Homo sapiens: one gene and its partners. The protein of the gene in region 1 interacts with the protein of each later gene in a pairwise test. Each region holds a gene or a part of one and is shown on either strand. Other genes may lie near its edges. The genes, in order: SH3GL3, EGFL6 and GABBR2.

Evidence for each region.
Region 2: the proteins of SH3GL3 (region 1) and EGFL6 interact in a two-hybrid assay, tested with the Homo sapiens proteins (one large-scale study listed by BioGRID and IntAct).
Region 3: the proteins of SH3GL3 (region 1) and GABBR2 interact in a two-hybrid assay, tested with the Homo sapiens proteins (one large-scale study listed by BioGRID and IntAct).

The regions. Positions count from the first base shown.
Region 1 is NC_000015.10:83,450,299-83,453,955, reverse strand, and holds part of SH3GL3 (endophilin-A3), read right to left. Parts: intron 1-3,657. UniProt on the Homo sapiens protein: Implicated in endocytosis. May recruit other proteins to membranes with high curvature.
Region 2 is NC_000023.11:13,628,579-13,631,472, reverse strand, and holds part of EGFL6 (epidermal growth factor-like protein 6 isoform 1 precursor), read right to left. Parts: intron 1-2,894.
Region 3 is NC_000009.12:98,299,779-98,303,435, forward strand, and holds part of GABBR2 (gamma-aminobutyric acid type B receptor subunit 2 precursor), read right to left. Parts: intron 3,646-3,657; coding exon 3,463-3,645; intron 1-3,462. UniProt on the Homo sapiens protein: Component of a heterodimeric G-protein coupled receptor for GABA, formed by GABBR1 and GABBR2. Within the heterodimeric GABA receptor, only GABBR1 seems to bind agonists, while GABBR2 mediates coupling to G proteins.

The DNA of each region.
Region 1 (3,657 bases):
TTTATAGCACTAAATGCCTACAAGAGAAAGCAGGAAAGATCCAAAATTGACACCCTAACATCACAATTAAAAGAACTAGAAAAGCAAGAGCAAACACATTCAAAAGCTAGCAGAAGGCAAGAAATAACTAAAATCAGAGCAGAACTGAAGGAAATAGAGACACAAAAAACCCTTCAAAAAATCAATGAATCCAGGAGCTGGTTTTTTGAAAGGATCAACAAAATTGATAGACCGCTAGCAAGACTAATAAAGAAAAAAAGAGAGAAGAATCAAATAGACACAATAAAAAATGATAAAGGGGATATCACCACCGATCCCACAGAAATACAAACTACCATCAGAGAATACTACAAACACCTCTACGCAAATAAATCAGAAAATCTAGAAGAAATGGATACATTCCTCGACACATACACTCTCCCAAGACTAAACCAGGAAGAAGTTGAATCTCTGAATAGACCAATAACAGGCTCTGAAATTGTGGCAATAATCAGTAGTTTACCAACCAAAAAGAGTCCAGGACCAGATGGATTCACAGCCGAATTCTACCAGAGGTACAAGGAGGAACTGGTACCATTCCTTCTGAAACTATTCCAATCAATAGAAAAAGAGGGAATCCTCCCTAACTCATTTTATGAGGCCAGCATCATTCTGATACCAAAGCCGGGCAGAGACACAACCAAAAAAGAGAATTTTAGACCAATATCCTTGATGAACATTGATGCAAAAATCCTCAATAAAATACTGGCAAACCGAATCCAGCAGCACATCAAAAAGCTTATCCACCATGATCAAGTGGGCTTCATCCCTGGGATGCAAGGCTGGTTCAATATACGCAAATCAATAAATGTAATCCAGCATATAAACAGAGCCAAAGACAAAAACCACATGATTATCTCAATAGATGCAGAAAAAGCCTTTGACAAAATTCAACAACCTTCATGCTAAAAACTCTCAATAAATTAGGTATTGATGGGACGTATTTCAAAATAATAAGAGCTATCTATGACAAACCCACAGCCAATATCATACTGAATGGGCAAAAACTGGAAGCATTCCCTTTGAAAACTGGCAAAAGACAGGGATGCCCTCTCTCACCGCTCCTATTCAACATAGTGTTGGAAGTTCTGGCCAGGGCAATCAGGCAGGAGAAGGAAATAAAGGGTATTCAATTAGGAAAAGAGGAAGTCAAATTGTCCCTGTTTGCAAACGACATGATTGTTTATCTAGAAAACCCCATCGTCTCAGCCCAAAATCTCCTTAAGCTGATAAGCAACTTCAGCAAAGTCTCAGGATACAAAATCAATGTACAAAAATCACAAGCATTCTTATACACCAACAACAGACAAACAGAGAGCCAAATCATGAGTGAACTCCCATTCACAATTGCTTCAAAGAGAATAAAATACCTAGGAATCCAACTTACAAGGGATGTGAAGGACCTCTTCAAGGAGAACTACAAACCACTGCTCAAGGAAATAAAAGAGGACACAAACAAATGGAAGAACATTCCATGCTCATGGGTAGCAAGAATCAATATCGTGAAAATGGCCATACTGCCCAAGGTAATTTACAGATTCAATGCCATCCCCATCAAGCTACCAATGACTTTCTTCACAGAATTGGAAAAAACTACTTTAAAGTTCATATGGAACCAAAAAAGAGCCCGCATCGCCAAGTCAATCCTAAGCCAAAAGAACAAAGCTGGAGGCATCACACTACCTGACTTCAAACTATACTACAAGGCTACAGTAACCAAAACAGCATGGTACTGGTACCAAAACAGAGATATAGATCAATGGAACAGAACAGAGCCCTCAGAAATAATGCCGCATATCTACAACTATCTGATCTTTGACAAACCTGAGAAAAACAAGCAATGGGGAAAGGATTCCCTATTTAATAAATGGTGCTGGGAAAACTGGCTAGCCATATGTAGAAAGCTGAAACTGGATCCCTTCCTTACACCTTATACAAAAATCAATTCAAGATGGATTAAAGATTTAAACGTTAGACCTAAAACCATAAAAACCCTAGAAGAAAATCTAGGCATTACCATTCAGGACATAGGCGTGGGCAAGGACTTCATGTCCAAAACACCAAAAGCAATGGCAACAAAAGCCAAAATTGACAAATGGGATCTAATTAAACTCAAGAGCTTCTGCACAGCAAAAGAAACTACCATCAGAGTGAACAGGCAACCTACAACATGGGAGAAAATTTTCGCAACCTACTCATCTGACAAAGGGCTAATATCCAGAATCTACAATGAACTCAAACAAATTTACAAGAAAAAAACAAAGAACCCCATCAAAAAGTGGGCGAAGGACATGAACAGACACTTCTCAAAAGAAGACATTTATGCAGCCAAAAAACACATGAAGAAATGCTCACCATCACTGGCCATCAGAGAAATGCAAATCAAAACCACTATGAGATATCATCTCACACCAGTTAGAATGGCAATCATTAAAAAGTCAGGAAACAACAGGTGCTGGAGAGGATGTGGAGAAATAGGAACACTTTTACACTGTTGGTGGGACTGTAAACTAGTTCAACCATTGTGGAAGTCAGTGTGGCGATTCCTCAGGGATCTAGAACTAGAAATACCATTTGACCCAGCCATCCCATTACTGGGTATATACCCAAAGGACTATAAATCATGCTGCTATAAAGACACATGCACACGTATGTTTATTGCGGCACTATTCACAATAGCAAAGACTTGGAACCAACCCAAATGTCCAACAATGATAGACTGGATTAAGAAAATGTGGCACATATACACCATGGAATACTATGCAGCCATAAAAAATGATGAGTTCATGTCCTTTGTAGGGACATGGATGAAATTGGAAATCATCATTCTCAGTAAACTATCGCAAGAACAAAAAACCAAACACCGCATATTCTCACTCATAGGTGGGAATTGAACAATGAGATCACATGGACACAGGAAGGGGAATAACACACTCTGGAGACTGTGGTGGGGTCGGGGGAGGGGGGAGGGATAGCATTGGGAGATATACCTAATGCTAGATGACACTTTAGTGGGTGCAGCGCACCAGCATGGCACATGTATACATATGTAACTAACCTGCACAATGTGCACATGTACCCTAAAACTTAGAGTATAATAGAAAAAAAAAAATTAAAAAAAAAAAAGAAAATCTATAACCTTAAAAAAAAAAAAAAAGAAAAATATCCCATTTTAATAAAGGATAATGCATATTAGAAAAAAAAAAAAAAAGAAAAATTTGGGTTCTAGTCTCAAACGCTGAAACTTAGAATTAATTAAATTTTTTTGTTAACTTATATTCTTCTCATTTTAGCATATTTCTTCCTCTTTCCTGTTGGTCTCCATGTGCTGCCAAAATGATGCATAATCCCCAGGGTTTACGAGTCTTCATTCTCTGTAAAGTAGGGGTTTTTTCCCAGAGATAGGGAAGGTATCAGGAAAAAAGGAACAGTTAACCGGGTTATAGCTAATTTTACCTCGCTTATCTTTCAGAAAACTATCTCAGTTTGCCATGGTCCTGGATCCCTTCTCTGTAAAAGGTCCACTTTATCATCTTTGTCTTACTCTGAAATGCTTAACTTACTTAAGAATTTCAGCACTGAGATGTATACATACACACACACCCAGAGACACAGAGA
Region 2 (2,894 bases), on another chromosome or scaffold:
TTTAAAAAAAAAAATAGTTCATGTTAATTTTATAATCAGATAAAACACTAGAAATATTTGTTAAATTCAATAATTATGAAAATAATAATAGCTACAATTTATGGAGCACCTATCCAGTAACATTCACTCTAAAGAGAAGTATGTCTCCCATGCCTCCCATAAAGAGCAGACTAGGCCTAGAGGGTTTCTACAATCTTCAATATCCGAAATAAGCAGATTTAGAGGACAACAAAATGATCCTGATTCAAAGATGACAAAAGTTACCCTGGAACAAACATAGAGGGAAAAGAATATTTCATTTGGAACATGGTATTCTTTAAAATAACATGCACATATAGCCTATCAAAATGAAATTCAACAATAGCCTACGCATACTGCAGTTACAGATAAATAAAAATATACATTCATGTGCAAAGTAAAATGTGAAATATAAAAGCACTCATGTTACTGTAGTATGATTATGAATCTTTTCTTATTTTCAAAAAAGTAATTTCCTTTTGTCATTTCTAAACTTTTTAAGCTCAAACTTATATAAATTCAAACTTGTATAAATTGGCATTTTAAAGAAAGACCCTTTAAGAATCATGCTCACAACAATGCCATCATGCAATTATTCACTATCCCCAGCACCATCTCTTTTTTGCTTAATAAAGAATCACAGAATAGTCTTCAGAAATGAAGCAACTTTAGGCTTGCTGTCATCACCATATCCAGTTTTCTCTGGCTCTCCAAAGAAGAGAAACCTCAGGGAACAAATGGAGATGACAAGGGTCTATGACTGCTCAGTACCTGGGCTGCTCTCTTTTGCTCTCAATCTGAGTGCATTTTCTTGAGAACTATTGGAAACAAGTTATTACTAAGCAGCCAGTGATAGCACAACTGGGTATAGAAGTTTCTTTTTCCTCTAGTCTCAGGAGGGAACTGCTTTCAGAAAGATGTTCCTTTTGCACCCAAAGGAACTTTTTTTAAAAAGTAGGGGTGAGCCAAACAGCAGACCCCTCACAGCAGCTGCAATGGGTGGGATAATGAGGGTGGCTATGTCTACATCTTGGCATATGGTGGCTTTTCCAACACTAAGACCCCTGACTGATAACCACTGGATAACTAGAAATAAATGTCCGGATAATTAATTGACATACTAATTTTGTGTTTTTCACTATATTTTTACCTCCTCTATCCCCCCCAAAATTAGGCAGGATTTTAATGTTCTTTTTTATCAAGGAGATTTGGGATATAACAATCAAAAGCAGACTTTTCTGGAAGATGGTCCCTTTCCTGACGTTTGTTACCCACAAGCTTAACTTTCTGAGACTGTGGCTGAAGGTAGAAGGTTAAAAGGAGAAGTGGTGAGGGGAGCCATGAGATTCTCCAGGACTAGGATGCTGTACCACTGCATCTCCCTGGCAGAGCCCTGGGCAGAAAATGGTTGCCTGATGTTCCTATTGAGGCTAGATTCTCAGCAACAAGATTCCAACCCCAGTAAAGGTTTCTGTGTCTGGGCCTGGCATGGAAGTTGAAGAGATGAGTGACTTCAAGGGCCACGTAGGTGCAGAAGATATGGGTATCCATGGCCCCCATGATGAAGTAAAGATGTGTTGCCCCCTTCTTAATGTCTGGACCATTTTTAGCCTTTCAAAAGCACAGGCTACCCTAGGGAGGGGGCCCCTATCCCAACCCTGAATGAGGAAATAGCCAAGATTAAATTTCCCCCCCAGCCTAATGGGATGGGGCTTTGGATTCAGAAATAGTTTGATTTCGAGAAAGCAATGTGACTTACATTGTATGCCCAAGTTTATGCAGCAAGAGTCACATATGTTACAAATGTCCACAGCCAATATGACATTGCTAAACTGGAATATATTCTTTAGACTGGATTAGTCAGCTTCCTTACCCTTCAATATCCCCCCATCAAGATTTCCCCTAGAACTGAAGAATTCAAGGAACAGATGCCTGGGTCTGAGAATGCCTCTTATGAAAGCACTGCTGTGTTCCAGTGTGATTGCTGGCCAGGCTCTTTGGGGGCATGTCTACAGAAATGTGCATTTAAAAAAAAAATCACTGTTTTGCTAGTATACCCTCCCTGCAAGCTACCATGTTATATTAAAAATATTCTCCATCACATGAATTCAGTCAACATGAAAGTGATTATGAATGCTGTGCAGAGGCATGTTTCAATTCTCCAGCAGGGGATATCATCCATATATAGCATGGCTCAGTGCCACAGTCCCCAAACCATGCTGCAAACACAACAAGAAAATACGTGGATTGGATTTGTATTGATTTAAATGTACTGCTATAAGAATAAACTCAAATTAATGCATGTGTCATTCCTAAACAAGCACTGGCTGCTTTTACCTCAGAGGGGAAGAGTGGTTAGGAAATTCATTAACTGGTACCCAACATATACTTTTATTTATAGTCATGTCTCATGACATATTTTAAACAAGATGTTCTGCTTTAATTAAACTATGACATGTAAATGAAAAGATGTTAAATTTGCATTAGTCATCTTTCACAAGCAAAGTATAAATGGAATCCCAATACATGGATCTACTAATTGCTCTTCCTATTATCACCACTTAATGTACCTTTTTCTAGCTTTCACCCTTTTTCCTTCCCACCTTGACCAAACTTTTCATTTGTTTGTTTTTTCGGGGTTTTTTTTGAGATAGAGTTTCACTCTTGTTGCCCAGGCTTGAGTGCAATGGCACGATCTCGGCTCACTGCAACCTCCGCCTCCCGGGTTAAAGCAATTCTCCTGACTCGGCCTTCTGAGTAGCTGGGATTACAGGCTTGCACACCTGGCTAATTTTGTATTTTTAGTAGAGATGGGGTTTCTCCATGTTGGTCAGGCTGGTCTTGAACTCCCAACCTCAGGTGATCTGCCTGTCTCG
Region 3 (3,657 bases), on another chromosome or scaffold:
CAGGGGGAGGTTGTGCAGATCAAACAAGATAATACATGGAAAGTTTAGCCCAGTGTCTGAAACATAATAAGGGCAACTTGCTACTATAATAATATTACTATTATTACAGGGTCTCACTCTGTCACCCAGATTAGAGTGCAGTGGTGCAATTATAGCTTACTGCAACCTTGATCTCCTAGGCTCAAGCAATCCTCCTGTCTCACCCTCCTGAGTAGCTGGGACTACACGTGCATGCTACCATGTCTGGCTAATTTTTTTTTTTTTTGGTAGAGATGGGGTCTCTCTATGTTCCTCAGGCTGGTCTTGAACTCCTGAGCTCAAGCAATCCTCCCACTTTGGCCTCCCAAAGTGCTGGGTTTACAGGCATGAACTACTGTGCCTGGCCTTATAATTACTATTACTGATACTTAATAGGACCCACAGTGGAGGACAGACATGCAGGGCTCGCGAGCTCTGAGCCTCACACTATCATGGAGACTCTGACCTGCAGGGTCTCACTCAGAGGAGTTAATCAGGATGGGTCCCAGTCATCCCCACGTTTTTATTTTTAGAGACAAGTCTTCTCTATGTTGCCCAGGCCGGTCTTGAACTCCTGGGCTCGAGCGATCCTCCCACTTTGTCCTCCCAAAGCGTTGGGATTACAGGTGTGAGCCACAGCACCTGGCCCATTCCCAGGTTATACAAAAATCAGGTGCAAGTCCTGGGGGCAATTCAGCCCCAGAGAAGCCTGGGCAATATGAGTGTTGGTAGTTGTTGGGGGTGGTAGTCGGGATGGGTGTTGAACATCTGTGATATTACCATATCTGTATAATAGAATGGCTTTCATCCATGATTCCTGGCTGCTATATCTCTTGTAAGAGTCTTTTGTTATAATGTTGGGGCATTTTAGGCCTCAGGAGCGGGCCTCATGAAACAGAATCACTCTCTCTGACCTTCTCCTGTCCTTTCTCACCTGCTCAAGGCAGGACTGTAATCTGATGTAGGTCAAAAGACCTTTATCACAGAGAGAAAGTCTTGCCCCATACCCTGGAGGAAGGAATGCTACAGAGAGGCCAAGAAAATTCTGAGCAGAAAGGCCTTGCTGGGTTTAGATCATGCATTTTTGTCCAATCACATTTCTACACAGTTGTCAGTCATGCCTCGTGTAATGAAGCCTCCATAAAAACTCAAAAGAACAGGGTATGAAGATCTTCTGGGTAGCTGAACACGTGAAGGTTCCTGGAGCATGGGGCCCAGGGAGGCAGGGAAGCTCCACACCCCTTCACCCGTCCTCGCTCTGTGCATCTCTTCATTCATGTCCTTGGTAATAAGCTGGTAAATGTGTTTCCCTGGGTTCCGTGAGCCCCTCTAGCAAATTAATTCAACCCAAAGCAGGATCCTGGGAGTCCCAACTTGAAGCTGGCTGGTCAGAAGTTCCAGAGGCCTGACTTATGACTGGTATCTGAGGGTAGGGTGGGGGTCAGGGGGAGCCTTGGGGACTGAGCCCTCAACCTGTGGGATCTGAAGCTATCTCTAGATATGTAGCATTGGATTTGAACTGGAGGCACCCAGCGGGTGCCTGCTGCTCGTTGGTGGGGAAAACCCCACACACATTTGGTCACAGAAGTCTTCTGCGTTGACTGTTGTGTTGGTGCAAGAGCACAGGAAAAACATGGTTAGAGGATTTTTCCAAACAGCATCCTGCTGTAGTATAAGGGAGGAGACCTGATAAACTATCAGAGGCTGTTCTGATGTCAGGAACACAGCCATGAAATTGTTTAACACGTTTTCATGTGGAGGAGGAGGGAAAGAGATACTCTTTTCTATGTGACTTAAATGGCAGGAGTAGGATCAAAGGGTGGGGACAACAGGAGGCCAGATTGTGATTCATTTCCGGGAAAAATAACACAACATTTAAGAGTTTTAAATAGTGGCCTGGGTTTCCTAATGTGACTGAACTCTTCATTGCTGAAGTGTGCAAGTAGAAGTGAAATGCAGTGACATGGTCGTACTCATCAGGAGAGGTCTGATATTGAAACAGAGCCTGTAATGGGCTTTGGGGGACAGAAACCCTTCTTAGTTTGCTCTGGCAGCTGATGGTGGGTTACCTCATCCTAAAGCAGTCATCTTTAGGTGCACAGACAACTGTATGGTGGCTCTCTGTGGCAGAATTCTGTGAGCCCCCCAAAGGGCGGCCAGATCTAGCAAATAAAAATCCAGAATGTCCAGTCAAATTTGAGTTTCAGATAATGGGTTCTTTTTTAGTATAAGTATATTCAAGTATTACTTGGGCTAAACTTTTACTGAAAATATGATTGGTTGTTGATCTGAAGTCTGAATTTAACTGGGCATCCCATATCTAATCTGGCAACCCTATGTCTCACTTCTTCCTTGCAGCTGTCCAGCTAGAGACGACGTTTCCCAGCCTCTCCTCTCACTAGGTGTGCTCATGTCAGTTTTTGTTGATGTGACTAGGGCAGAACCAAAATATGCACAATTTTTGGTGTTACTGCTTAAAAGGCAATCCCTCATGTGGACTTTCTATCTCTTCCCCTCCTGACACTGTGAACAGGACATGCTGTCCACCCAGCTCTCCCGCTATGAATGAAGAGAACACCCTGGAGAGTGGGGAAAACCAGAGGGCAGGAACCAAGCCCAGCAATGACCTTGGGGAGCAGAGCTGCCCCAACCGGGCCCTCTCTTTTCACGGCCATTAGGTAAAAGGGAAATAAACATATTTTCTCTGGGCCACTTTATTTTGGGGCCTTGTTTAGCCAGCATTGTAACCAATGTACTTTCCTTGGTCCCTTTCCTGTCCCCCTCCCTAATCAGAATTCCTCTATTAAAGCAACACACAGCCTGCAGAGCACGGGTTCAGGCATACCTCCAACCCAAAGGGAGGGGTAGAGGAGGGGAGGTAATTTGTTTTCCCTTCCCTGGTCTACAAGCCAAGCCTGGCTTGGGCACAAGGCAATCTGGCTATGGTCTCTCTGGAATATTCAAGAACCAGTTGAGAACCCTCAGGACAAAGGCGAGGTCTGCTGCAGCACTCTCTCTTGAAAAGTTTCTTTTCACTTTCTCTTCTCTTGTACATCACATAGATGTGGTGGTTGCTGGGTTGTGCTGGGAGAGTGAAAAACTGAGAGGGAGAGAGACACAGATAAAGAGACACTGACGTAGGAAGCTATGATAATCCAGAAGCTCACAAATCTCCCTGAGTTCCTTTCTGTCTGGGGATGGCTTGAATCAGGTGTTGCTGGCCTCCAAGAGCCTGGGTGAGGTGGGCAATAAGCTCATGTTGGATTCTGACAAATGCCTCTGTGTGGTTTATGTCACCCCTGGCTCTCGCAGCTGCAACTGCAGCTGATGAGACTGCACGGTCATGCTGCAGGGATGGTCTAGAGGAGCCTGAGAGTCCCCGCACAGGGTTAGAGGGGCTTCAGTGGCAGACAGGGCCCAGCTACCAGATGCAGAGGGAGGTACCTCTGTGATCTTCATTCGCAGGCGATGGTTTTCTGACTGTAGGCCCTCCAGGCGGGATGTGCTGGCTTGGTTCACACTGGTGACCGAGGTGGACGTTTTAGAATCTTCTTTCTTCTGATTCTGAGTGAACTGGAATCGCCTGTTCTGCGTTGCTGCATCTGGGTTTGTTCTCAGGGTGATGAGCTGAAAGGACAA